Homo sapiens: one gene and its partners. The protein of the gene in region 3 purifies or fractionates together with the protein of the main gene of each other region. This does not show direct contact. Each region holds a gene or a part of one and is shown on either strand. Other genes may lie near its edges.

What was found.
Region 1: the proteins of PRSS37 (region 3) and MANBA purify together in Homo sapiens (affinity purification with mass spectrometry; 2 studies listed by BioGRID and IntAct, with this or other methods). This does not show direct contact.
Region 2: the proteins of PRSS37 (region 3) and PCDH20 purify together in Homo sapiens (affinity purification with mass spectrometry; 2 studies listed by BioGRID and IntAct, with this or other methods). This does not show direct contact.
Region 4: the proteins of PRSS37 (region 3) and LRP5 purify together in Homo sapiens (affinity purification with mass spectrometry; 2 studies listed by BioGRID and IntAct, with this or other methods). This does not show direct contact.

What each region holds. Positions count from the first base shown.
Region 1 is NC_000004.12:102,687,814-102,695,064, forward strand, and holds part of MANBA (beta-mannosidase precursor), read right to left. Parts: intron 2,959-7,251; coding exon 2,783-2,958; intron 1,872-2,782; coding exon 1,761-1,871; intron 1-1,760.
Region 2 is NC_000013.11:61,412,839-61,420,084, reverse strand, and holds the start of PCDH20 (protocadherin-20 precursor), read left to right. Parts: upstream 1-4,235; 5' UTR 4,236-4,926; coding exon 4,927-5,058; intron 5,059-6,118; coding exon 6,119-7,246. UniProt on the Homo sapiens protein: Potential calcium-dependent cell-adhesion protein.
Region 3 is NC_000007.14:141,838,426-141,846,176, forward strand, and holds the start of PRSS37 (probable inactive serine protease 37 isoform 1 precursor), read right to left. Parts: upstream 3,061-7,751; 5' UTR 2,625-3,060; coding exon 2,591-2,624; intron 1,925-2,590; exon of another isoform or gene 1,840-1,924; intron 1,055-1,839; coding exon 913-1,054; intron 580-912; exon of another isoform or gene 511-579; intron 1-510. UniProt on the Homo sapiens protein: Plays a role in male fertility. May have a role in sperm migration or binding to zona-intact eggs. Involved in the activation of the proacrosin/acrosin system.
Region 4 is NC_000011.10:68,406,340-68,413,590, reverse strand, and holds part of LRP5 (low-density lipoprotein receptor-related protein 5 isoform 1 precursor), read right to left. Parts: intron 7,068-7,251; coding exon 6,778-7,067; intron 3,678-6,777; coding exon 3,451-3,677; intron 2,156-3,450; coding exon 1,971-2,155; intron 512-1,970; exon of another isoform or gene 331-511; coding exon of another isoform or gene 288-330; intron 1-287. UniProt on the Homo sapiens protein: Acts as a coreceptor with members of the frizzled family of seven-transmembrane spanning receptors to transduce signal by Wnt proteins.

The DNA of each region.
Region 1 (7,251 bases), on a different chromosome or scaffold from region 3:
ACCAGCACCTAGCAAAATAGCCAAAACACAGTAGGTGTGCCCTAAGTATTTACTGAATGAATCAGCCTCAAAAAATAGCAACTCTACGGCAGCCACAGCCAAAGAGCACATTTCACACACATGCATTAACTCAAGGTGTGGGGCAGTTAAACATCCTCCTTAAAGCAAACTCCTGTTGCTGCTCGATTCAAAGGCTGGCATCTTTATGTGTAATGAACAATAATACAGTCATATTAGCCTGAATGTAAAAGAATTATTTCCCTTAGAAAAAGACAGAAGTTCCTCTTCTTTCTCTGTAGTAAGTTGGAATGACTCATTATTTTTTACATTTTCATGAAAACAACACACAACAAACTCACTGTGTGAGACAGCACACATCCTCTCAGCCAAGAGGGGTACGACAAGAGTGAATGCTTTGGCCCTTAAGACGGGTCCAGGATGTTCTCCCTGTACATAACTCTGTGCATGTGTGCGTGCGCGCGCACACACACACACACACACACAAACACACATACACTCTCTTCCCCTCTCACACACACATACACACTCTTTCTCTCTCTCCCCTCCCCCCTTACACACACACACACACACACACACACACACATTCACAGTGTCTCAGAAAATACACAGCATGATTGAACAAAAGAAAAACAGAAAATGCACTCCTGAAGGACATATCTCCATCCTTAGCATGTTGTCTGGCCCACAGGAGAGGAAATACCAAATGTAAGAGGTGACACCAGCCAACTGTAAACACCGAAGCTGGTGTCTGGGAGAGGAGGAGATCTTTGAAGAGGGTTAATACCATTTCTACTAACTATATGCCATGACTCTTATAAGCCAGATCCAAGCCATCTCGTTCTTATTGTCCCTATTTTACATATTTTGAGATTAAGTAAGTAGCCTATAGCTAATAAATAACAAAGTGCAGTTCTTTCCAATTCCTAGTGCTATATCCTAAAATGGGTAAAACTGAAAAATCAGAAAACACCAGTAGAAGCACCTTATTCAGAAAAATGAAGAAGAATGTCAGAGGAAATAAATAAAAGTTAAAAATGGTTGGTTCTGGGGAGTAGGAAGTAAGAATAGGAAGTGATGGGCAAGAGGTCTTATTTTTCATATAAACTTACTAGTAATATTTGAGTTTTAAAATTACACATGTATTATTTTGATATAAGGTACAATTTTAAATCATAGCAGGAGACTACTTATTGACAAAATAATATCTAAAGTATGATCCATTTAAAAATATAAGGCCGGGCGCAGTGGCTCACGCCCGTAATCCCAGCACTCTGGGAGGCCAAGGCAGTAGATCACTTGATATCAGGAATTCAAGACCTGCCTGGTCAACATGGTGAAACCCCATCTCTACTAAAAATACAAAAGTTAGCTGGGCGTGGTGGCGGGTGCCTGTAATCCCATCTACTTGGGAGGCTGAGGCAGGAGAATTGCTTGAACCCAGGAGGTGGAGGTTGCAGTGAGCCAAGATTGCACCATTGCACTCCAGCCTGAGTGACAGAGCAAGACTCTGTCTCAAAAAAAAAAAATATATATATATATATATATGTGTGTGTGTATATATATGTATGTATATATACACACACAGAGAGAGAAGCTTTTGAATGCTGTTACTAAAGATGATCTCTGATGGGTGGGGACACAAGAGTTTTGACGGTTTCTTCTTTTCCCATGAAGATCTGTATTACTATTTTTAAAAGAAATAAAATTATTTCACAAAATATTTTAAATTACTTACTTACCTTAGCTGATTTTTCAATATTTAAGCCTCCATCCAGTTCAAAAAGAACAGTCATGTTGTACCCAGTCTGGTTTCCATGTCCATGAGGCCACCAAGTTTCTACAGTAATATTCTTTTAAGAAAATTTAAAAGTCACTCTAATATGTCATATTTTCAGCAAAAAAGGCTCAAAGCATTACATCAATTTCTCAAATAGTCAAGTACAAAACTCTAGGTTCTAAAACAATGTAAGTCTCCCCACCTATATTATGCCCAATCAGACCAATTCATTGATAATATTTAAAAATCAGCATGCTGGGAATCTAGCATGGATCAATACATCAAAAGCAAAAGGAAAGAACAGAATAACATGAGTGTTCAGAAAAACAACTCTCCCTATCCCTAACACCGAGCTTACATTTATTCCACATTCTTAACACTTAAAATGGGACTCTGAAGTTGACTCTTCTTTCAAGCCAAAAACTAAAAATCATTTTGAGTTCTTACTTTATCTCAACAGCTACTGAATGTTATTTTGCTCCACCTTTTTCAGTACACAATTATCAATTAGAGGAATAGAAAAAAGAAAAAGAAAAGATAAAAATAATCCGTTCTACCTTGATATATGAAAGATCATGAGTTTAGAATTAAAATTGTGCATGTAGAATAAGTATCAATAATCAAAATAATTGACAAGTATCAAAAATAACCACTGCTATTTAAATATAATCCATAGAATGTATTTTGGCTTTAGGATACTACAAATACTACAGAAAATTAAAATACAATGATAAAAATAAAATGAGAGAAAGAATTGCCAAATTAATAATATATTCTCTATTTTCTTAATCTTAAAGTTTGGGAAAATCATTCTTTAGCTCATACTCACAGAAAATATATGAGAGACTAAAATAGAGAAGAAAATGACAAATATAAGCAGAGAAAGTAGAATTTTCTTTCATACTTAGTCCCTCCTTTCTAATCATTTCTTTAGCACAGGTATTGCTTTTCATCCAGTGCTTCTCAGGAAGTACCATCATTTACCTTGCTAATGTTCACAAATAGCTCAACAATCCTTTTCCCAGGTTGAAGTTCAATGCTGTATGTCTGTTGTGTTTGCAACTTAGGGATGGCTACGATCACTTGACCACCAACTGGCTTTGAGCTGACAACATCAAATGTAGACTCTATTTCCAGATTCCACTCCTGGGCACTCTTATCTAAAATATAAAAAGAAAAAGAAATATATATATATATATATAATATGCTAAGCATTATCACTGCATTTCTCAGGATTCATTGAAGGTAAGACTAAAGCAGCTTCAAACCCAGTATGTGCTCCACAATGCTGTCATAATCAAAACTTCGTGGAAATTTTCTTTTAATCTTCAGTTTAATCCTTCATTCTGAAGAAGAATAACAAAAATGGTATATTTTACATAGACTTCCACTCTAAAAATGTTATGATTGTAAGTCATAAAAACTTTATGGAGCATAAACAGAAAATGACAAATGGAAAGATAAAATAAATTTTCCAAGAATAATACACATTTGTTCCTTTTTAATTAAGTAAAAATACTTTATAAAGTAAAAAGTAATAGTATTTTACTTTATAATGTAAATGGGTTTTAAAGTTATGTAATAAGGTATAAATTTATATGTATTAAAATTAATCAAATGTGAAAAAATAAAGTTATACTTTAAATGTAGATAATTTATCCAATAAATATTTCCTGAGGACTTTCTATGTGCCATATACTCTGCTAAGTGATGGGAATTAAATGGTGACCAGGATAAACATGGCCCCTACTCTCATGAACTAAAAGTCTATAGACAAATTCAAAAGCATAATAATATCAGGACAGGAGAAATAAAAGGTTGTCCTGAGAAATAAAAACAGGACATCAGAAAGCACAGCTAATACAGAGAGGGTGAAGGAAGGCTTTCTCTCTTTTCTTTTTCCTTTTTTTTTTTTTTTTTGACACAGGTTCTCACTCTGTTGCCCCGGGAGTCACACAATCATAGCTCACTGTAGCTTTGAACTCCTGGGCTCAAGCAATCCTCCTGCCTCAGCCTTCTGAGCAGCTGGCACTATAGGCATGTGCCACTCACCTAGCTAATTTTCTTTTTACTTTTTGTAAAGATGAGGTCTCACTTTGTTGTCCAGGTTAGTCTTGAACTCCTGGCCTCAAGCAATCCTCCAGCCTCTACCTCCCAAAGCACTGGGATTATAGGCATGAGCCACCATGCCTGGCCAAGGAATGCTTTCATTAGAAAGTGGTATCTAGCTGAGACCAGAAGGATGCCTCAGCTAAGTACAGAGGAAGATGATAAGGATTCTGGGCACAGAGAAGCATGTGAAGGCCCATGAGTGAGACAGCAATGCCATAACAAGGAAAACAAGGAACTTGGGCAATAACAAAATTGATGAGGGGGTCAGCATAATTGAAAAGTTGAGCACGGTCCAAATGACACTGGGTCTTTTCGAACAGGTAAGGAGTCTGGCAATTTCACCCCAGATCAATGCGGAGTCATTGAAGATTTTTCATCAAAGAGCATGACCAGATCTGCATTTTATAAGAATTGCTAAAGGTCCCAGCACAGTGATATACAAGGATGAATATGAAAGAAGCAGAAAGATATAAAATCTCTCTGTGTACAAAAAGCCCCAGAAAATGCCACTTGGAAAAGCCAGGAACAGAGAGGAGGCAAAGAAGAGTGTTGATCAGAAAGAAGAGAAAACAAGACCGAAGAGGAGAATTATAGGGAAAGAAGAAAGATGAGGGATGAACTTTGGGTGCAGAGTTTGGGGTTGTCAGAATGTTTCGAAGAGGTTTTGAAGTAGAGTTTTATATACGCGCAGTATGACTCTGTCCTCCATTTCCTGTCAAATTTATATTGTTTGTATAATGTCTCCGGGTTTGGTTTTGTGTTTAGTTTTTATTTTTAAACAAGATAGAGCACTGGGACAGACTTGGGACAAGAGCTGGGTGGAAAAACAGACCGTTTTTTAAAGTTACGCAGAAGAAACTGGTCATGAGATCTCAAAAAAGCTTGGAGGTACAGGGGGTTAGAGTCAGCAAAAAAAGTTCTCATTCTTTGCTGCCACAGAAAGAAAGGAGAAGAGCAGTGACTGTGCAGAGGCATTTAAGTTTCTATGATTCGTGGCAAAGTATGGAGGGAGTTCCTATTTAGTGGCTTCTATTTTTCTCCAAAGGAAGGGGAGGGGGAAGGCTACTAGCTGAGAAGTATCTTAGAGACCTTTCTCCTACAAATAAAGAAGAGATTAATAATCATGGCTTTGCTGCAAAAGAAAAAAAAAAAAGCTAGGTTTCTATGCTGATCAATGACAAAAGACGTTATAACCGGCACTGTTTACAACTGTAGGAGCACACCAGGCCTGTTCTAAAGATGACCCCAGCACAGTTTATCATTCGCATCTCCCATCAGCCAAAAGCATAGATTTGATGCACATTGAAGTAAAATTAATCCTGGACTTAAGAACTATTTTTGTTTATTAAGTGATTTATTCTGAGAAATACTAGTCGATGAGCTCTGAGTTAGGTTTGTTCTGATCCAGTTAATTTTGCAGGTTACTTACCGATAGCCTCCAGGTTTTGAATCTATCAGCTGGTAGATCACCTAGTCTGCTCGCTCACCAGTGTTTAATTTCCTCTATTCAATAGGTTGTCAAACTATGGTCTTTGGGACAAATCTAGCCCACCTCTTGTTTTTATAAATAAACTTTTATTGGAACACAGATGTTATGGACTAAATGGTGGACTCTTCCCCTAAAATTCTTATGTTGAAGCCCTAACCTCCAGCTTTTTATGAAGTAATAAGGGTGGGGCAGTAATCTGTTAGGATTGCAGCCTTATAAGAAGAGGAAGAAACAGATATCCGTCTCTCTCTCTACTATGTGAGGACATAGCAAGAAGGCATCTGTCTGCAAGCCAGGAAACGAGCCCTCACTGGAAACCAAATGGGCCAACACCTTTATCTCGGACTTCCCAGCTGCCAGAACTACGAGAAATAAACTTCTGTTATTTAAGCCACTCTGCCTATGGTATTTTCTTAGGGCAGCCAGAGCAGACTAACTTAATAGTCATGCTCATTTGTTTACTTATTGTCTTTGGTTACCTTTGCAATACAACAGTAGAGTTGAGTAGTTGTGACAGATGCCTAAACTATTTTACTATGTGATCCTTAAGAGAAAAAGTTTGCTAATCCCTGCCCTAGAATATTACCCCCAAAAAAGGCCATTCCAACCTTTCTTTAAATATCTCTAATGACAAAAAAACCTCTGCCTCACAAAATAGCCTTCCCATTTTTGCCAGGCTTGGCTATTGTAAAGACTCCCTTTACACTGAATTTGAAATATACTTCTCCTTAATATCCAACTAAAGATTTTAGCTCTGTCCTTTGAGCACCTCCTACCAACGAAGCAGGCTCCTGTGTTGTTTTCTGTTACTTCTTCTTTAGTAGGAGAATCAGCTGTTAGTGACAGCCTCTGACAGGAAAACAAATAATGCAATCCTCAAAGGTCATCGGCAAAATTCCCCAGTTTCTCTTGCTTTGAACTTGGAAGGTTCTCGAGCAAGTCCGCACTCCTCCAGAGCATCACCCGTTAACACCCCTGGGAACTACTAAATGAAAAAACTAAGGTTGTAGAATTAAAAACACAGTATGAAGATCTACAAGCCTACAAAGTTATCACCAGATATACTTAATAACATATTTTTCCCCTCTCCTCTTCTTTCAAATAGAGTAAACCCCTTCCTTCCAGTAGCACATGGAAAAGTAGGTAATTTAGGTTCACAAGGCGCAAAGTCTTAAATAACCAGTAGTTTTCCTGATGTTCTTTGGTCACTCCTTTTCACTTGCTAAATTAAATTTATAAATTGCATAATCCTATTTGTAGTTAAGAAGAACTCCATCTTATAAATTAAGCCCCATTTCTAGAATACAGCTTCCTATCATCTCTCTCCTAGCATTAATAAGTCACCATGTCTTGAAGAACACTTATCATCACCAGCTCTCCTGAAGTAAAATGCAAGATCACTTCAAAAATGGATGAAGTACTGGGGGTGAGGGCAGGAAAGAAGGATTGCTACATCTTCTAGAATCCCCTACAGAGCTCATCCTTCCAATCACACCACCAAGTTCTGCATCCTCTCTTCACTTTGACTAAACAACTCAGCACAAAGAGGACAGGAATTCTTTATCAAAACAGGTGCAAAGGCAATGCTGGCCTGCCCTCTCCACAATTCAAGGCCTTGAGGCCCTCCCTGGCCTGAAGGCTTATTGGTGTCCTCGCTGATGTCCTAAGCCCAAGCAGAAGAGATTATGTTCTACAGTTTGTTCATATAACCTCAATCAGGAAGGCAACCCAGAGGATGGTAGAGAATGTGGTTCTGGCCACTAATTCGCTTTAAGGTTTTCCCAGAGATGACTCAGTGAGTGTTCTTTAAAAAAAGAAAAAAACAAAGAGCACAATGTGTCTGACCTGGATG
Region 2 (7,246 bases), on a different chromosome or scaffold from region 3:
CACACAGCTTAGACAAGTTATATCCATGTGTATGTATCTATTTACGAAGTAGTAATGGACTAAAGAATCCTTTCCTTCGAAAAGGCATCATATAACACATCTATGCCTCCAATTTTTTTTATTTTAAATGAGTGATAAATGTTTGTTGAATAGAAATACATTTAAATGTGTGTGGGCCCTTTATTTTCCCATTCTGATGAGAAAGGCATACCAGAGTAGAAAGATCACATATTTTGAAGGTCACAGATCAGGCTCTGGACTAGCATGTTATGTATGGCTATAAAGCTGGTATAATAATAACTATATTATAAAACTGCTGTGAGGATTAACTAAATTACATATGTCAACCACCTAGTAGCATGTTTGAAACATAATTGACACTAGGTAACCAATCTATCATTTCTCAGGTATTTTATTGGTTTTTCAAATGTAATCATCCTTTTAACCTTGATGATTGAATCAAAAAAGAATACAGATATAATATTTCATTGTATATATATTTATTATATGTTATATTTATATGTGGTATATTTTACACTTTTACATATGTACCTATATATTAATAATATATTTTGTGTACACATGTACATATATTTTAATTCATCAAAAGGGACTTCTAATTTTAAAAATTCTATTAAGACAAAGAGAAATGGCCTTAAAATAAGGTAATATTCTAAACTTATATTTATTTGCAATTATGAATTAACCAGAACATGTACACGGTTATGGTTCAAGATAGTTTTAAATATCTGTGTATATAGTGATTACATGAAACTTTGTGTATACCACAATATTATTAAACTAATCTAAATAGTGGAAATAGATTTAATTGAGAAATACAAATAAAACTACCTGTAAAGCATAGTGCTTCAAAAATTTTTTTTAAAGATTTAAAACGTAAAAAGTTTACAGATGGTATCTTTTTTCCTCATCTTTTTTTTTTTTGAGATGGAGTCTCGCTCGCTCAGTAGCCCAGGCTGGAGTGCAGTGGTGCGATCTCGGCTCACTGCAAGCTCTGCCTCCCGGGTTCACACCATTCTCGTGCCTCAGCCTCCAGAGTAGCTGGGACTACAGGCGCACGCTGCCACGCCCCGGCTAGTTTGTTTGTTTGTTTTTTGTATTTTTAGTAGAGATGGGGTTTCACCATGTTGCCCAGGCTGGTCTTGAACTCCTGAGCTCAGACCATCCGCCCACCTCAGCCTCCCAAAGTGCTAGGATTTCAGGCGTGAGCCACCGCGCCCAGGCAAAGATGGTATCTTGATATATACTTATAATCTTGCTCACATCTTTGTAGTGGAGATAATAAAATTACAAAAAGAAGGCTTGCAGTAAATGAAAAATAGTATGTTTTAGTGATAGAATGCAATAAGTAATAATCAAGTTAACCCGTGTATCAGCATGCAGTGTCTGTTAATGCCAGATATGAGGTAAGCAATTTCATGCATATACGTGCATGAAGTGTGTAGGGGTCTTTTTTTATGAAATTGAAACAGAGAAGTTTGATGACTTGTCTAAAGTCACACAGAACTTAGCAACAACCCAGAGAATGTAATCCACTCCTCTGGCTCAGCTCAGTGCACCGTCTATTGTATCCTGCTGTTTTCCTTGTCTATAGGAAAAATAGGCTTGGGAGGCATATAATCTAACTATTCTTCTAGATCGATTTTTACAAAACATGTGGGAAGCAGGCCCAGAGCAATTGAGACGTCTAAGAAGTTCATAAGTATTATTTTCAAGGGACTAATAGCATAGAAGCTTTCTGAGTCATCGTTAGAAATATGTGACACCAGAAGGTAGGTCGCAGGCTGGCATCATAAGGAATAAGAGTTTGGGAATGCTTTCACAAGGCCCAGAGAAGGGATACATGGGAAGAAAGATGTCTATTTAGTCCTTTTTATTTTATTTAAGCCCAATTAGGGTATAAACATTGTGTAAAACCTTTGGATTTTCAGAGAGGAAAGATAATAACAAGTAGTTCAGTGAATGGTTTGAAATGCGACGTGGAAGGTATTGTTCAATATTATGCCAAGATCTCCCAATCTTGATGACAAACTTCCATGCAGGGACTTTGCAATCACCGTAGTCACTTAAAGCAAATGTGGTTGTTAGTGTCGTTCCAAACATTATTTTCAAGATGTGTTCAATACTAGTGTTTCAACTTACATGAAGAACTTTTGCTATAATTCATGTTTATGGTTTTTAGAAACACTCTAGAGAATAATTATGGCCAAATGGGTATATTTAATTTCTTTTCAACTTAATAAAGGGAGGTGTGGTAATAACCCTTTCCACAGAGACCAGCTGGGTGATAGGGTCAGAAGACGAAGATTCTGCTGGTGTAGGCTGGGGGAAACACTTTAAAAAGGAAGTGCATCTGTACTACAAGCAACCACTGCAAAGTAGGGAAAGGGAGAGTAAGGGGCCAGGGAAAAGTAAAAACTTGAGATATAATTACAAAGAGAAAATGTCACTTCACCTGGACTATCATCATAAACAACAGCTCCTGTACAATGTCCTTATAACAAAGGAAAAATGAAGAAAATAGCTCCCTACGTTTCCACCAAAAAGGTGGATGATCTTAACTTGTTGCAGAGGGCATGAGCTGTGAGCGGATAAACAGCCCACTCTGCTGCTCTGTCTCTGGGGGAGAATTGTTGCAGACTGCAGGTTCTCTGACTGCTGACAGATTGCCTAACTCTGGCCGTGGGCCTCCAACTTCGGGAAGCTGTGGGTATTGTATAAAGATGTAAGTTAAACACGTTTCAGAAGCAGCTTGGTACTGATTTGGGGAGTCAAGTATGTTTCAACTACAGACCTCAAAGTAAATATTTACTAATATGGCAAAAGTTCAGCTGTAGGGCAGAACCAGCAGCTAAAAAGCACAAGGAGGGAGATCATGCTTCCCTGGCTGCAGCTTGTTTACCAACCTTCAACTCAGATGTGCATGTTCCTTTGAGTGTGTGTGTGGGGTGGGGAGGAGGTGGAGTGGGAGAGGGGTAGGGGGGTGAGGGGTGGGGTGATGGTGATTGGGGGCTGAGGTTTACCACTTCATCAGTGCTCCATTTTCACTGTAAAGGGTTTGAAGGAACTGATTTTACCAGCCAGGTTCAAATTGTATGCCAAATTTGTATTATAGAGAGACTTGTGAACTCCATGTACAGCCCCATTTGCACAATAACAAGCTGTTACCCTCCAGGTGTTTTGATGTAGTGTGTTGTCCATATTTAGGACTCTGTGTTTAGGATTATTAGAAATGAGGAGAAAATAGGAAGGATAGGAAGCAAAACAGTTAGCTCAGCCAAGCAATTTATATTCTAGTTAGCATTTGGTGGAAGGGGAAAATTGAAGTAGTTCCTACAGAAAGCATATGGAAATCAGGTATCAAAGACCTTTTTTCACTCTAGGCTCAGTCACTGGTCATTCAGCATGTGAGGTTTTATGTTCAGGACCCTGCAGAGGATATCTGGAAGCCTAGCGATGAAGAGAAATGTCTTCTCAAGGAAAGGCCGAATCATGGGCTTTTCCATTACTTACATGGCAACCTGCAGATCAAAAAGTGTTTCAGAGGCTTAATGCACTGGAGTATCCCACTAGCCTTGATTTTATAAATGAGGAAACAGAAGGCCAGGAGTTAGGTGACTCCAGGTTACATAGCTATTCAGTGTCAAAGCCATAGAAGATAGGCAATCATTTGGCACCACACTCTTCCACAATTCCTTTATGAAGGACCAGTTTTCCAGTAGGCAATCCAGGAGAAAGAAAGAGAGAGAGAAAGGGAGAGAGGCAGGGAAAGAGGGAGAGAGTGAGGGAGCGAGGGAGCTAGGGAGTAAGGGAGGGAGGGAGGAAGGAAGGAAGAAAGGAAGGGGGGAAGGGGAAGAGGGGAAGGGGAAGGAAGGAAAGGAAGGAAGGAGGAAAGGGGGAGGGAAAGAAGGGGGAAGGAAAGAAGGAAGCAGGGAAGAGGAAAGAAGGGAAGGGGGAAGGGGAAAGAGGGGAGGGGGGGAGAGAAGGAAGGAAGGAAACAAGGAAGGAAGGACTAATTTGAAAAATAACCAATGTTTTACCTAGGCTTCAGTGAATACCTCCCCCTCCCCACACCAATTTACCGCTTAGATAAATATGTTTAAGATTACTTGCAGGCAGAACTACTTGTGTTACAGCACAATTGTTTCTACTTTCCCCTTGGCTCTTCCCCGCATCCAGAAGCCACTACTGCCTCTAAAATAAGACCACAAGGCAAACACCCAGAGACATTTGAGCCTCCAACTAGGAAACTAGCAGAAGCTCTACCACTGCCCACAGCAAAGATTCAAAATTGGGGTATGTCGAAACCTTCACTGAATTCATATATTTACTTTTCCGGTTCACCCTACGTTACACAGAAGTTGAGATTCCTTCCCTCCGCTGAGAAAAGTGCATTTTCTTTCTCTGTGCCAACACTGCTGGATCCGAGGCTCCAGGAGGAACTGTTGGCAAAGCAGGCGTTTTGGGACCGCGCCTGTGATTGCTCTGTGGCGCCGACTTCCTCTCTCTGTTACATCCATATACAAATGCAAGCTTATTTATTTATTTTAATTCTCCCTCTCTTGCTAGCAACCTGTGGACTTGGCATCTGACTGGTGCGGCAAGGAAGGAGGCTGGTAGGTAAGCGCTACTGTGCCCAACCCCGAGCTGCCTCTTCGCAGTCTTCAGGAGCAAGTCCCCCATTCCAGCTCCTCTGGCAGAGTATGGAGTTACCTGCGTCCGGGGCAGGAAACCATGAATGTGCCCTTCTGCCCTCTTGCCTTTCTGCCACTCTTTGAGTTCCCGTCCTTAATTGAAGAGCCAGTGACTATTGGCTGAAGTTCCCCCAGCGATTTGCATGAACCGAGAGGGAGTGTCTTCTGCCGCCCTCCCTTCAAGAGCGCTCTGACTGCAGCCTCCCAGGGAATGCGCGGCCGAGGGAATGCGCGCAGCTCACAGGCCCTGGGAGTGAGCTGGTGCCCGGCGACCTGGCACCCGCGCCTGGATATGGGGCGTCTACATCGTCCCAGGAGCAGCACCAGCTACAGGAACCTGCCGGTAAGGGTTAGGGTCAAGGAACCCCGCGACCCCGACAAGTTGCAGTATTGTGAAGCAATTCCCACTCGGATGGTTTTTCAAACCTTCTACCTTTATCTAAACTTCACGGGAAGGATGGCGCCGGGAGGGAAAGGGAGTTTGGGATAATGTGTCTTCCTTTTAACAAGGAATAGGGAAGTCCGTGGGTCATGAGAGGAAGTTTCTGAAGCAAGAAATGTATCCAGATAAGGTCGAGGGCATCGGGGGTGCGCTCAATCCGCTTTAGCTACAGGGGTTCGGGATCGTTTCCTGCTGCTGGCGTCTGGCTATGAATGCCTACTGCAATTGACAAATTGTTTTTGCATAGCCATTTTCCGCGTTTACTTTGCTTCCCCCTAAGGGAGGGGGATTAGTGACTGCTTGGTAAGGGGTGGAAATCCAGATCCTTTCGGTTTGATTTCAGATGTGTGCTAAAATAAAAATCACTCTTTCCGACCTAAGACCTAAAGTGTTGGAGGTGGAGGAGGAAGTGTTGGTATTTTTTCTATATTATTATTATTATTGCGATTGTGGTTGTTTTTATGGTTCTCTTAGTAAGGGATGTAACACACTGCGTGTTCCAGCACTCTAATGGCAGAATCACTTCAAGGAGAAATAAATTGCCCACCTTTCAGTGCTCTCTACTACCAGCCCCCTCCCTCCCCATCACCTACCCTGGGTTTCCGTGTCGCTTTGCGCAGTCTCTGAGTCGGAATCCTCTCCACTCCGGTGTGTGTTTCCAGGGATGTTTTACGGTTTGGGATTCTGAATGTTAGCTGGATGAGGGTGGTGATGGGGAAACGAGGGGGGAAGGCGGGGGCGGAGGGGATAGAAAGTGAACAGCAAAATTAAGTTTTGGAGACGATATTGCCCCACAGATCTCTCCTTCGCAGCAGGGTTCTTCTCCGCCCCCGTTCTAATTAGAGGTTTTGCTTCTGGGAACGGGGATGGGGACAGCAAGGATCACAGGGGCGCTAGTTTCTCTCTCGGACCCCTATTTCCCCGTGTGTGTAATGAGCTTTCTTCCCTCCCCCAACTCCAGCATCTGTTTCTGTTTTTCCTCTTCGTGGGACCCTTCAGCTGCCTCGGGAGTTACAGCCGGGCCACCGAGCTTCTGTACAGCCTAAACGAGGGACTACCCGCGGGGGTGCTCATCGGCAGCCTGGCCGAGGACCTGCGGCTGCTGCCCAGGTCTGCAGGGAGGCCGGACCCGCAGTCGCAGCTGCCAGAGCGCACCGGTGCTGAGTGGAACCCCCCTCTCTCCTTCAGCCTGGCCTCCCGGGGACTGAGTGGCCAGTACGTGACCCTAGACAACCGCTCTGGGGAGCTGCACACTTCAGCTCAGGAGATCGACAGGGAGGCCCTGTGTGTTGAAGGGGGTGGAGGGACTGCGTGGAGCGGCAGCGTTTCCATCTCCTCCTCTCCTTCTGACTCTTGTCTTTTGCTGCTGGATGTGCTTGTCCTGCCTCAGGAATACTTCAGGTTTGTGAAGGTGAAGATCGCCATCAGAGACATCAATGACAACGCCCCGCAGTTCCCTGTTTCCCAGATCTCGGTGTGGGTCCCGGAAAATGCACCTGTAAACACCCGACTGGCCATAGAGCATCCTGCTGTGGACCCAGATGTAGGCATTAATGGGGTACAGACCTATCGCTTACTGGACTACCATGGTATGTTCACCCTGGACGTGGAGGAGAATGAGAATGGGGAGCGCACCCCCTACCTAATTGTCATGGGTGCTTTGGACAGGGAAACCCAGGACCAGTATGTGAGCATCATCATAGCTGAGGATGGTGGGTCTCCACCACTTTTGGGCAGTGCCACTCTCACCATTGGCATCAGTGACATTAATGACAATTGCCCTCTCTTCACAGACTCACAAATCAATGTCACTGTGTATGGGAATGCTACAGTGGGCACCCCAATTGCAGCTGTCCAGGCTGTGGATAAAGACTTGGGGACCAATGCTCAAATTACTTATTCTTACAGTCAGAAAGTTCCACAAGCATCTAAGGATTTATTTCACCTGGATGAAAACACTGGAGTCATTAAACTTTTCAGTAAGATTGGAGGAAGTGTTCTGGAGTCCCACAAGCTCACCATCCTTGCTAATGGACCAGGCTGCATCCCTGCTGTAATCACTGCTCTTGTGTCCATTATTAAAGTTATT
Region 3 (7,751 bases):
TAACTGAACAATGTCCATTTTGGTGGAGACCAGAGAATAAATAACCTAGTTCTGGGTGTCTCCTGTTTGGTTCCCTAGCTGATGCACTAACAGTCCTATTCCATTCTGCTCTGCACCTTTGGAAGGGGACATATATGGATTTAATCAGTGGGCTCTCTTGTCCTCTGGCTTCCTTCTATTGGCCAATAGGAAGCACCAGAAAGTAACTGGAGGAAGAAGAGTGAGATTGGAGTACTTATCCTCCCAGGTCCCTCCCTGCAGTTTTGTCACAGAGTGGCTGTGCTCCTTGACTAGGGGTTACAATCCTTATCAGGCTGTCTCCTCACACAGGTCTCGCTTTTTCTCTATCTCTCCTTGCCTCCTTTGAAATTATCTTCTCCTCTTGCCTTTTTAGGCCTAGAGGTGGTAACTGCATTTTCTTAATACAAACCCTGGTGGTATGGAACTATTCTTAATATTGTCCCTTTAATGTCTCCATACCTTTGCAATTGGTTCCTTCTTAAAACTCACCTCAATTGACCCAATTTGAGTGCATCATCAGTTACCTGCTAGATCTTTAAGTGATAAAATGCATTCATACTGCCAGTAAAAAAAAAAAAAGAAAAAAACTTATGAGAGTCTGAGGAGGCATAACATGTAACACAGGGTTCCTCAACAGTGGCACTATTGCTGTTCTGGGCTGGACAAATCTTTATTGTGGGGACTGTGCTGTGAATTGTAGGATGTTAAACAGCATCTTTGCTCTAGCCTCTCCCCATTAGATGCCAATAGCACTGCCCCCTGGTTGTGACAACCAAAAATATCTTCAGACATTGCCAAGTGTACCCTGTAGAGAAGTTACCCTTATATGAGAACCACTGATCTAGAATGAACAGTAGCTGTTTTGGGGATGGGGATGCCCAAATACTCAACGGTAAATAGCAGTGAGCTGGGGCCAGCACCCAGCTGGGTTTGATGAGGACGCCCACACAGGGGTTGAAGTGAGACTTGAGGTACACCAAATAGGGAGCAGGGTCTTCTTTCTGAACAGATGAGTCAGCAAAGAAAAATGTCCCTGAGAAAATAATGAACATTCTTAATACATAAATATTATAAAAATAAGGTAACAGTCTCTTACTTGAAAAGGAATCTGGATGATTCTTAAACAGTTATCAGTTGGCCAAGAAGTGTTAACGTATTTGACATGTTTTTCTAATAAAAATGTAAATTAAAACGATATGCCATTTTATCTTATATTTATAATAATTTTGTTTAATATTGATAATATTCAATCTAAGAGAGTATAATGAGAGACACTCATCACTGCTAGTAAATTGATTCCATCTTCTTGAAAAGCAATTTAGAAACAGGCATCAAGAATCATAAATTGTTTATAACCTGTGACCTAATCATTCCAACCCCAAGAATCCATTCTAAAGAAAAAAATCAGATATAGACAAGGATTACAAACAAGTATGCTCATGTTAGCTATAACAGCTGAACACTGGAAACATAAATATCTGACATAGTAATGTTGGACATTGAAGCACATCAAAAAGTGGAACATCATATATAATAAAAATTAAACTAATTAGAATATTAAACAGCAAAAGAATATTAATGCTTATTTAAGTTAAAAAGAACAAGAAAATTGTGGATATAATCTATTTGTCTAAAAACAAATAAATAAAAACATTTAAATGCAAAAAATATATAGATTCTGAGAGTAAACTCAAAGTGTTAGCATGTGTTGACTAAGAGGTGGGATTATGAATGATGCTTATTTTTCTACTTTAAAAATGTCTAAATTTTGTAATATGAACATATATTGTTTTTATAAATGAATTATTTAAAACATACCCTAGAGAATAAAGGGGAGGAAGGCTGATTCTAGTATCAGAAATAAAGCCCTCTTCTTGTCTTGGCTTCTCTTGCTACTCCTGTTAACCTTCCCCAAGACTGGGTCTGTACCTCACCACACCCTTCTGTGTGATCACACAGTTAGAAACCCCAAAGAGAAAAGGGTAGACTGTAAACAAGGGCAAGAGACATTGAGCTCTCTATAGCAGGCATTGTTCTAAGTGCTTTACATAGATTTATTTAATCTTCACAATAGCTCTATAATATGGGTAGTCATACCCCCATTTTGAAGAAATTGAAGCACAGAAGAGTTAATTAACTTGGCTAATCTCACACAGCTAATGTGTGATACAACCTAGGCAGTCAGAGAATGGTGGGAAATGCCTCATCTGCAAATTCTGCTGTCAGAAGAACCCCATGTGGGGCAAGGACTACAGAAGGTAGGGTCCTAGTACTTGATCTTTTGTTTCTACTTCTCTGTTTTCTGCATTAGTGTCGGTGGGAGGACACTCACTGTTAAGCCTTCTCCAAGGCACATGTGTGCCTTAACCCACCCTATAGCTTAACACTAGAAAAGTGGGCTCAGCCTATCCGGAGAGCCTTTGGATGGAGTCTGAGAGGCAGGACTCCTAATTCTGCTGATGACACTATTTTTGACTCTTTTTCTGCACCCTTCGCAATCCTGCCTCTGTCTCACCCCATCCATTAAACTGTGCCTTACAGGACAGAGTACAAGGTCTTGAGTACATACCAGCGAGGACACCCAAATAGAAGACATATTTCATGGTGATCCAGCTCTTCCCCCTGTGAGATGTAGAAGAAAATCAGCAGAGTGTGGAGCGGTTGGCTTAGTTGTCTTCTCAGGAACACCTGGTAGACTCAGTGGCTATGGTTAGATACGGAGGCACTCCATGGGATTGGAAAGCAGCTCTGGGCATAAACAGGGGAGGGAGATGGCTTCAGAGAGACAGATGAAAGCCCTCTGTTCCAGGGAAGGTGGAGGACTGTGCCTCTGTTGGGGCATTTCAGGGAAGGAAACTCCTGGATTCAGCTCCTTCTATCTGCTGCCCCTAAAAACACATCTGTTTGAAGGTAGTTCAGTTGTCTGTGGAAATGGCAGCTCTAGGCTCAGGACTTATCTTCCCCACAGAGTTTCTGAGACCAGGGCTATGAGGGACAATATTCTTTACCTTAGCTCAGGGAGTAAGTGTCCTGAGGTTTGCTCTGAACCTCCTAATAGTTACTTATACTTTCCCCAGCCCCTCCCATCTTTGTTACACTAGCTTCATATGTCCCTCTGATCACTGTTTCATCACTCAGTCATCATCACCAACTTGGTGTTTTTTGTCCTGAGCAACAGCATTGAGCCAAGAAAATATGGAAATGAAAAGCATTCATAGAACAGTTATCTTGATAGTTGGGGAATTGTTTACAGTCTAGATGACATTAGGCCTGGTGACAATTCAGAAGGCAGTACCTCTAATACTTAAAGACTTAGACCAATATTAGACTACCAAAGTCATCCTTGGATAATTGGGAGCATAGTCTAACAAGAAAATGAGCGGTAACACTAATAGCTGATATCCTCTAAGCATTTACTGAATCCTAGGCACTGAGCTAAGATCTTTACGGACTTGTCAGTAGAGATTTTATATCAGGTTAGTCTGAGATGTAAAATTCACTACACTTTGTATCACTCTAACCCTTTAAAGTTTCTTAAACCCATAATCTCTTTCCAAATGTCACAACAACCCTAGAAAGAAGAGATAGGGCTGGGTCTGGTATCTATTTCTGGTCTGTGGGTGGCAGAACTGAAGCAGAGAGAATCTAAGTAGTTTTCCCAAAGTCACATGTCGTGGACAATGAGAAATAGGCCTTGTCACTGGTGTAGGGTTGCAGGTCCCCCACCAGGATACTTAAGGGTGTATGACCACTGCTTGAACCTTAATGGCTAAGTAGTGAGTCAAGGACACGGTGCCCAGCCAAGAAGCAGGTATCCTTGATGGCCAAGTGGTGAGTCAACGCCATGGTGTCCAGCTGAGGAGCAGGTGTCCTTGAGTACCCAAACATCCCAGAGAATACCTGAGAACCTATCAAGGAAAACAGTCCCATCATGCACACACAGTAGGCAAAGAGCCAGAAAATTAGCTTAAAAGCAGCTTAGAGATGGAAAGCAGGGCAGGTCTCTAAAGGTGTCCTCTGCTATCTAGGAGTGTCTCATATGTAAGTCCTAATAAACTTATCCACTGGCCAAGCTGGACTTGTCTGAGTCATTCTTTGGTCTCTTGGCTCCCTCCTAGTTTGGGGGAAAGGTTTTTTTAAAAATATGATTCTGGATTTTTCTTGTTACAATTGGCATCACAAATGGGGTCAGAGAGACCAAACTTCGAGCCAGGAATGAGTGTCTATGGTGGGGAATCCCTGGGCAGTCGGCAATGTCCATGTGGAGTGGAGTTGCCCAACTGCACAACTTTTGTGGGCCACTGCATGAGTACAGGGATGCTTGGAAAACATGGGCAAGGACTGAATACCTATTGCCAAGAAGCCAAGATATTAAAGTATGATAATGATAGTAAATGTGGTGTTATTGCAATAAGGCTGGCTAATCACAAATCATTAGAGCAGGAAAGGGAGAAAGGGTAGAAACTCCAGCAGAAGCTAAAAGGCATGGTTTTCTAATCCTCCAGCTGGTTACATATTATGGCCCTTTCTTGTGTACATTTTAAAACTGACGGGCAAATTACAACAAGAAAAATTCAGAGCTCAAATGTTTAATCTACAACTATAGAGTTAAGTAGAGTCTTCTAAAGCTCTCTATTTCTCTTTCCTTTTCTGCCTGCTTTGAATCTACTGTTAATAAGTTACTGGTATTGAGATAAAACTCACTAATTCAAGGTCAATTTGAGATTTTTTTTTTCCTCATATGGTTCAGCCAGTTCTAGCTAAAATGTAAAGAATTAAACTCATTTGGAACTGAAAAAAAATGGATAAAGGAGGTTTTTAAAAATCAAACTGCCATAGAAACTGCTTTACCCAAATTATTGATCCACTGCTTTCCTTGGGTTACCTATTGGGGCAAATAAAGTTTAGCCATGTGAACAGGTCCCAATTTTATCAAAAATAATCTGGATCCAGCTGTCTTTTATATAGTAATGAGTTTGTGAAGCTAGAATTCCAAAAGCTATTGGTAAAAGCTATCGGATCTTGCATGTATATGTATAAACATGTTTAAATGTGTTATGTGTATGTGCATGTATTATGCTATGTGTTATATCTAGCATGGTACCGAATAGCTTATAAGTAAATACGTACTCATAAATTAAATAAGTCCAGATGCTCTTCAGGTTCACGTGAATTCAATAATCTTTGGTGAATAAGCTGGCTTCAAAATTTTTGATAAAATAAAAGTAGAAATGTCTTCAAAAGTGTCAGCATACATTTTTGTCTGAGTTTCTTGATTAGATAAGTTGTATATTTGCCCCTCCTAGATAGTTTAAGGTGTCAGGTTTCTGACATGAAGGTTCTAAGACTATAAATCCACCCAAAACAGAATGATCTTTGTGTGATTTTTTTGATAAGCAAGATTAATTTGATATTGTCAGTTTAATTAAAACAGCTGAATTTTCTGAGTTATTGGTAAAAATGCTTATGTCTTTAAGTTTCTTGATTAGACGAACATCTGATATTTATAAGCCATTAAAATGGTTAACAGGGAAATAACTCGTAATGATTATTAGCTTTGTCTAATAAGTCTAATGAGCTTTCGTTCTCATGAGTAATCCAGATAAACCACTAAAAATGAATAAATTCAGTAAATGTAAATGAGATAAACATAGGTAAAACTTTTTGTGTAGTTTAAAATCTTAAAATTATTTTAGCTACTCATTGAATGTCTGGGTCATTTCCAGTTTAGAAAGGGTTATGATATGAGACATTGGTTGCAGTTCTTTTGCCATTTAGTGGAAAATGGAATCTATGATATGGGGGAAGCATTGGTGGATCTCAGTGGGCTGGATAAGAGCAAGGACTAAATTCAGAAAGTAATCACTTGTCCCAGCACAGGCAGGCAGTGAATGTAAAACAATACTGCCTGCCAGGGGCACACTCTGAAATCATCAGAACAATTTAGGCATTCCATAAGGTACAAATAGGCTGGCCCAGAGCCCCTGTAACAGCCCTGGGTAGCCTGTGAAGACACCAGATGGCACCTGCAAAATGTTGGCAGGCTACCATGAGCTAAACAAAGTGTTGCTCCCTGTATATGCAGCTGCTGAACTACTAGAACAAGTGGTCCTCAAGCTGGGAAATGTCCATCCTGTGACTGACTTGTCTAATGGCTTTTCCAGTATCCCTTTAGCAGAAGATTCACAAGGTCAGTTTGTCTTCACTTAGGAGGGCCAACAATGGACTTTCCAGGTGCTAACACAAGGGTACCTGCACAGCTCCACCATCTGTCACAGCATGGTTGCATGGAACCTGTCTAGGCCCTGTTTGCCTGCCTCAATCTCCCTGTTTCACTATATTAATGATATCATGCTAACCTCAGAGTCTCTTACAGATCTGGAGACTGCTCTACAAACTGTCTTGGATACCCTAAAAGACAGGTGATGAGAAGTCAGCCCCCAAAAGATAAAGGAGCCTGGCATAACTGTCAAGTTCCTGAGAGTTACCTGGTAGGGTAAGACGTGAAACATAAGCTAGCACAGCAGCCTGTTCCCTAGATGGTAAACTAACACCAGGTGTTCTTAGGTTTACTGGGCTACTGGAGAATATTGATTCCTCATCTGGCACAAACCCTCTGCCCATTATACACCCTCATAAAGAAAAATAAACAATGGGACTGGACATACATGGAGCAAGAGGCATCTGACAAGACAAAAATATTGGTGAAACAAGTGCAAGCAATAGGGTCCCCACTGCCACAGCACCCTTTTGTGTTAGAATTCACTAAAGATGCCATGGGGATGATTTGGGGTTTGTGATAAAAGCAACCAATGTGAATGGTACCTGTAGGATTTTGGTCTCAATTATGAAAGAGTGCAGGACCTACTGTATAGTCCTCGAGCAACAGCTGTTGGCCATGTATAGGGCATTGCATGAAGTGGAGGCCATCACCAGGAAGCAGACTATCACACTAAAAACTGCCTACACCATAAAAGGATGAATGGAAGGCCTTGTAGCCAACACCATCTCTGGGGTAGCACAGTCACACACCCTACAAAAATGGCACACCTATCTGCAACAGAGGGGTGTCTCATCCACTAGTCTTTTAAGTCAAGCACTACAGGAGGTGCTCAGACCCATCCACTTTGAACAACTGGAGGGGTTTGACATGACAGTGGGGCCACCTACTACGCCAATCACTGTATATAAGGGGACCCTGCCCGTAACTGCTAGGACCTGCTACACTGGTGGGTTTAACAAAGGCAGCCAGCACCAATGGTCAACAGTTGTAGCGCAAATGAACCTTGATACCTTATGGATAGAATAGGGATTAGGACAAAACATTCAGTGGGTCAAGCTATGGGCAGTTTGGATACTCATCACCCACAAGCCCTGGTCACTAGTCACTTGGACAGAGTTAGGCTACATACAGAGGCCTTACCATGTGGATCAATCAATGGACTGCAGAAAATCAACAGGTTTTGGGCAGGCCCATTTGGGGAATGTCCATGTGGCAGGATGTTCACCTCAGGTTACAAGAGAACGATGTGCATCTGATGGTGTATCAGGTAGATGCACACAGCCCCAAGTCACCTCCCAGAAATCATGAGGCAGACACCTTACTCATGTTCAGGCAATTTACCCTAGCCCATTGGAGGAGGATGCCATGTGGATACCTCATAAGAGTGGCCACCAGTGGGTGGCTATAGGGTGGGTCATAGCAAAGGCAGCAGGCATCCCTTTCCAAA
Region 4 (7,251 bases), on a different chromosome or scaffold from region 3:
TAGCGACCACATGAATGCCTTAAAGTGTTTGGCCACCTTGGAAAACCAGCAAGATCCACTGAAGCGCAGGCAGGATCTAGCAAAATTAAGTGACCTGGCTACAGTCACACAGTTGCTAAGTGGCAGGGCCAGGATTACCACCCAGGCAGCGAGACTCCAGGTTCTTGTTCTCATCATGTCAGGCCTGGCTGTGCATCCTTCACTCCCACAGCAATGAGACCAGGCCTTCCATGTTATTAATCAAGCACTCAGTAAACATCCGGAGCGTTTAAGTCCAAAACACGTACCGAGGAGTGACGGCCAGGCTGCAATGCACATGGCCGCCCTCATTGGCAGGGTCACATGAGTTTCCAGGGCTTTTGCTGGTTTTCATCTGAGTCTGTCCTCACTCCGGGGTGATTAATGAGCTTAATCATTTCAGGCAACCACAGCTGTGCGGTGACTGGTTTCTCGCCTGGCAACAGGTTTGCATGCGGCCTGGATGAGCTGGGTCACGGGATGTGCTGCAGAGCTGGGTGACGGTCACGAAGTCACGTGCAAACCTTGCTACTGGCCTCACAAGTCAGGGTGCAGCCCACCCCCAGCGACAACCAGGACACGGGGTTCAACTGCCAGCTCTGCCTACGCAGTACCTGGGACAAGGCATTCAGCTGGTCGATGCCCCAGCCTCCTCATCTGTAAAATGGGCACAACCACACCCAGTGCAGATGGCGAGTAGGAGAGGCAGAGGTCAGAAGCCAAATTCTTGCTGCCCTTCCTGAGCGGTTCGACATGGCTGACGTGCTCAGAGGCTCTCCTAGGGCCAAGGTCACTGAAGGTCCCTTTGCCAGGGGACAAAAGTCAGGGCTGCCCAGGTGACCCTCTCCTCCCTTGTCTGCCCTCAAGCCAAGGGGTGCCTGGGGACTTGGAGCCTCAGAGCTTCTTTTTCTTCTTCTTTTTTTTTTTTTGGAGACGGTCTCACTCTATTGCCCAGGCTGGAGTGCAGTGGCATGATCACAGCTCACCACAACCTCAACCTCCTGGGCTCAAGCAATCCTCCCACCTGAGCCTCCCAAGTAGCTTGGACTACAGGCATGAACCACCATGCCCAGCTAATTTTTAAAAAATTTTTTTGTAGAGATGGCGTCTCACTACATTACCCAGGCTGATCTTGAACTCCTGGGCTCAAATCATCTGCCCGCCTTGGCCTCACAAAGTGCTGGGATTAGAGGTGTCAGCCACTGCACCTGGCCCTTCAGAGCTTCTGCCCCTGACCTTCTAGTCTCCCAACTTGGCAGGGGGGATGGGGGTTCCTTTGTTAAGCACAGTTGCCCCTGTCACCTGCCATATCACCCAGGACAGCTAACTACTCTAGCAGAACAGAGTGTGCGGTCCCCTTTTCTGGGTTCAAATCCTGCTCCTGTTGCTGTGTGACTTGGGATAGGTTTTTTTCAAACTTCCCTGAGCCTCATTCTCATGATCTGGAAAAAGGAGATGAGAGCACCAGCCCTGGGGTCCCGGGCGTGTGGACACTCCCAGCACAATCCCAGCACATGGTGGGGTTCAGGGCTGGGTGGGGATCGAGTGCTGGCCCTGGTATCTCTGGGGGATCCTGAACTCACCAGCTATGTGACCTAAGGCAAGTCATGTGCTCAGGCCTCAGCTTCCCCAGCAATGAAAACCACCATGTGTGTTAGGGTGAAATTAGAGTCCTGGCACAGGGATTAGCTGGGACCTAGTGCCCAGCAGGTGCACAGGAAACAGCTGTCACCAGAGCCTCTCCCGACATAACTGCAGCAAAGGCACCCAGGGGTGGACGGGGACAACTCCCACAGCAGAGGGTGAGGCTGCTGGGCAGTCGTGGGTGTGGCCACAGCTCCTGCCAGGTTGGGGAACTTGCAGGCCACAGGGTATGTGCGGCGAGGCTGGGAGGTGGCCAACGCCCGGCTGCCCCGCCCTCCATGACCAGAAGGCCCCAGCCCGGCCCTCACCCAGCATGTTGGACGACTCGATCATGTTGGTGTCCAGGTCGGTCCAGTAGAGGCGCTGGTCAGCGTAGTCAATGGTGAGGTCGTTGGCCCGGCCCACCTTGTCCACCAGCGTCATGCAGTTGGTCCCGTCCATGAAGGCCCGCACGATCCTCGGCTTGCCGCCCCACTCGGTCCAGTAGATGTAGCTGGAAGGCACAAGGGAGAAGGGCAGGCTCAGTGAGTCTGCTCTCACCGCAGGACAGTGGGTGGCGGGGGGACGCAACTGTCCCCACCTCTTCAGCTCAGCCCTCCCCGTCCTGGAGAAAGCCACGCGCAGGAAGCAGGGAAGGGCGAGACCCTCGACCCCTGCCACACACATATCCCTCCAGGGGTGGTCACTGCGCCACCTCCCTGAATTCCCACAGTGGCTCACTCGTAAGGCGAGTAAATACCCACTTACGGACACAAAAACAGATGCACAGACAGGGTGAGTGTGTGCTGGAACATCCACCTAAGCTTGGCCGGATGTTGGGGACACGGCAGAAACCAGGATGGACACAAGCACATCACAAAACAAGACCTCAGGGCAGGGGAGGCCTTGCGGGATCCGGATGTAAACTCGGCTCTGGGCTCCTCCCCCAGCAGCCCCTCCTTCCCTCTTCTTTTAGCAGATCCAGAAGAGGAAATGCACATCCTCATTCCAGAATTTTCTAAGTTTGACCTGCCCTTGCTCTAAAACCTGGACCTCTTTCTGTTGTCCTGCCATCCTGAAGTCTTCCTTCCTTCCCTAGCAGAACAGGCGACAGGCAGGGATTGGGCTGCTGCACACATCACAGGTGCTTTAAGGGGTGAGCACTGTGTCCACCACACAGAAAAGAAAACTCAAGTCCAGAAAGACGCCCCACACATCTGGGGCCTGTCTGAACCCCGTGCCCAAGGCAGGGCCCCCAGGACGCCTGGCAGCTCAAAGCACATTTGCCTCTCGAGGTGGGTCCTAAGCTGTGGCTCAGCAGCCTCCAAGAGGCCATTTCGGAGGAGCCTGAGGTCCGGGGACCTCAAAGTCAGTTCTGGATCATGGTTTTGGCAAGAGTGCAAAGCAAGGAGACCTGGTCAGGAGCCTGAGACAGCACTTCCTGGCCCAGCTCTGCTCTAACTGGGTATGTGACCTTAGGGAAGTCACTCGGTTTCTCTGAGCCTGTTTCTGCATCTGTAAAATCGACACAGATACCCACCCTACGCAGGCTCCATGGACACTTCGGTGAGACGGCCCAGGTGAAAGCAGCCAGCACTGTGCCTGATACAGCCTCAGCACCCGCTCCACGAAGGAACTCCATGACCTCTGAGGGCCCTACCAGTCCTGGCCACCATCAAGGCTAATGACGTCAGTACAGCTCTAATCACCGAGGGCCACACGGACAGCCTGCCACCTTGCCCAGTTGGCACCCCCGCACTGTCTCATACGAGGTGAACACAAGGACGCACGGGACAGGCAAACACTTACCCCTTGGTGGGATCCAGGGCCAGCGACCTCGGGTTGTCCAAGTCCCTCCACACGAGGACTTGCCGGAACTGCCCGTCCAGCCGCGCCACTTCGATTCTGTTGGTCCCAGTGTCGGCCCAGTAGAGGTTCTTGCCCATCCAGTCAACGGCCATGCCCTCGGGGTAGTCAAGGCCAAACTCCACCACGTGCTCCACCGAGCTCCCGTTCATGAAGGCGCGGCTGATGGTCTGGCAGCAGGTGAGGAGGAAAAGGGCCACATTTTAGGAACCAGCATCTTTTTTTTTTTTTTTGAGACGGAGTTTCGCTCTTCTTGCCCAGCCTGGAGTGCAATGGTGCGATCTCGGCTCACTGCAACCTCTGCCCCCTGGGTTCAAGCGATTCTCCAGCCTTAGCCTCCCAAGTAGGTGGGGATTACAGGCACATGCCACCACGCCTGGCTAATTTTTTTGTATTCTTAGTAGAGATGGGGTTTCACCAAGCTGGCAAGGCTGGTCTCGAAATCCAGACCTCAGTTGATCCACCTGCCTCAGCCTCCCAAAGTGCTGAGATTACAGGCGTGAGCCACCACGCCAGGCCAGAACCAGCGTGTTTTGTAGACATCTCCCGAGATGCTTGGCCACTGGCAGCAGCTACTGAACACATTCTGGACCAGATCACCAGCATTCAAGTTTTTAAATGAATGTTTGAAATGCAGCAAGACACCTTTTTGGAAAAAGCAACTTGGAGATTTTATATATATTTTATATAAAATAATATAAATGTGTATTTATAAATGTATATTATATATCATACATTAAAAAATATACATTACATATATTTTAAATATATACTTATAAGTATGTATTATATATTATTTATAAATATATATTTTTATATTATATATTTTATTATATATTATATAATATATATTTTATATTATATATTATATATTTACTTATAAATATAATTTATAAATTTTATTTATAAATATATATTTTTATATTATATATTATATATTTATAAATATATATTTTTATATTATGTGTGTGTGCGTGTATGTGTGTGTATATATATATATATATATATATTTTTTTTTTTTTTTTTTTTTTTCCCCAGATAAGTCTTGCTCTGTCGCTCAGGTTGGAGTACAGTGGAGTAATCTCAGGTCACTGCAGCATCAACCTCCTGGGGCTCAAGCAATCCTCCCAACTCAGCCTCCTTGGTGGCTGGGACTACAGCTATGCACCACTACGCCCGACTTATTAAAAAAGTTTTTTGTAGAGATGGGGTCTCACTATGTTGCCCAGGCCGGTCTCAAACTTCTGGGCTCAAGTGATCCTCCTGCCTCACCCTCTCAAAGTGTTGTGATTACAGGCATGAGCCACTGTGCCCGGCTGTAACCAGCACACGCAAAATAAAAGAACAGTTAAGCCTAAAAGCAAACATCTGTGCAGTGGAGTATTTCATACATTTAAAAGATTGTGCCAAAGAGTTTGTCACAGCGCCATCAAATACCTGTTGTAATGTCAAGTGAAAAAATCAGGATACAGAATTCTGCGTAGCATATGACTGTGATGAAGAGAAATGCTATCTTAGAGAAAAAAGACTTAAAGGCAATATGCTGAGGTGTCAGCAACGGTCGTCTCTGGCTGGAGAGGTTATGGACAATTTTTACTTTCTTTTTATACTTTCCTATATATATTTTTTTTTCTACAAAGAACCCTTGTGACTTAAAGTCATAAAAAATCTTTTAAAGCTATGTAATACAAACAGTAGAATAGGCTGGGCATGGTGGCTCACGCCTGTAATCCCAGCACTTTGGGAGGCTGAGGTGGGTGTTTGAGCCTAGGAGTTTGAAACCAGCCTGGGCAACATGCGGAAACCCTGTCTCCCCAAAAAAAAAAAAAAAAAAAAAAAAATCAGCCAGGAGTGGTGGTGTGTGCCTGTAGTCCCAGCTACTAGGGAGGCTGAGATGAGAGGATCACTAGAGCCCAGGAGGTCGAGGCTGCAGTGAGCTGAGATTACACCACTGCACTCCAGCCTGAGTGACAGAGGGAAACCCTATCTCAACAACAACAACAACAACAAAAAGCAGAAAACAAATCATAGAATAATAAATGAGCAAACATTGTAGTTGTCCAATACTTTAGAACAGAGGTCAGCACACTTTTTCTGTAAAGGGGCGGATGGCACATGTTTTAGGCTTTAGAGCCCATACAGATCTGTCACAACTCATCTCGGCAGAACAAAAGCTGCCACAGACAATCCATAAACAGATGCGCTTTGGTTACACCAATCAAACTTTTTTTTTTCTGAGACGGAGTTTCACTTTGGTTGCCCAGGCTGGAGTGCAATGGTGCCATCTCAGCTCACCACAACCTCCGCCTCCCAGGTTCAAGCAATTCTCCTGCTTCAGCCTCCTGAGTAGCTGCGATTACAGGCAGGCGCCGCCATGCCCGGTTAATTTTTTTTTTTGTATTTTTAGTAGAGACGGGGTTTCTCCACGTGGGTGAGGCTGGTCTCGAACTCCCGACCTCAGGTGATCTGCCCACCTCGGCCTCCCAAAGTGCTGGGATTACAGGTGTGAGCCACCGCACCCAGCCACCAATCAAACTTTCTTTACAGAATCAGAAGGCCAGCCCACAGACTAGTTTGCTAAACTCTTCTTTAGAAGGCAAAAAGTTTTCCTAGGCCGGGAACGGTGGCTCACACCTGTTATCTCAGCACTTTGGGAGGCCGAGGCGGGCAGATCACCTGAGGTCAGGAGTTCAAGACCAGCCTGGCCAACATGATGAAACCCTGTCTCTACTAAAAATATAAAAAAAATTAGCTGGGTGTGGTGGTGCATGTCTGTAGTCCCAGCTACTCAGGAGGCTGAGGCAGAAGAATCGCTTGAACCTGGGAGGCGGAGGTTGCAGTGAGCTGAGCTCACGCTACGGTACTCCAGCCTGGGCAACAGAGTAAGACTCTGTCTCAAAAAAAAAAAAAAAAAGTCTTCCTGTATTTGTCCTGGATGTTTACATTTGCACTATAAATGAAGAAAGAGTCTGCTGAGCAAACGGGCACCGACAAGGGAGTGGGTGGGGTGTCTGAAGTCAAGCTCAACGGACAACAAATATTTCACATTCACACAAGCATTTCACAAAAGCCCTTATGTGTGTCTACCGGACTTGCTCATTATAATCATCTTTTTTTTTTTAAATAGGCTTGCTCATATTTGATTAGCTTGAACTGCGTTACAATAAATACGATAGTGCTTTAAGAAAAGTGTCTGAAGCCTTTGAGGCAGGAACAGAGGCAAGGTTTTCCCATAAAGGCTGCCTGTGTGCACGTTCTGGCCCACGCTACCTTCAGGCTGACGTCTGTCCAGTAGATGTGGTTGTTGGACACATCAAAGTCCAGGGCTGAGGCCTCCTTGACGCCCGTGAGCGGGATGGCCACGTCGTTGTTATTGGTCTCGAGGGAGATCCTGTGGATGGCGGCTCTGCTGGTGAAGACCAAGAAGGCCTCAGGCACGATGCAGGTCTTCATGTCACTCAGCAGCTCCAGGCCGATGGGGCAGCCACACCGGGTTGCGTGGGGTGTGAAGAAGCACAGGTGGCTGCACCCCCCGTTCCTGTCCGCACACGGGTTGGTTCCTGGAAGCGAACACAGAGGCTCCAGTCTAAACATCAACAGCCCAGCAGGGAAAGGGGTGCGGCCAAGCCACACAATGAATGCTGCCGTGAGCCACACAGCTCAGGGGTGCCGAGCTCAGGACTCACCCCCGGGTCAGGTCCGACCTCATGGCTGGGTTGGCCAGGCTAAACCCTCAAACACACA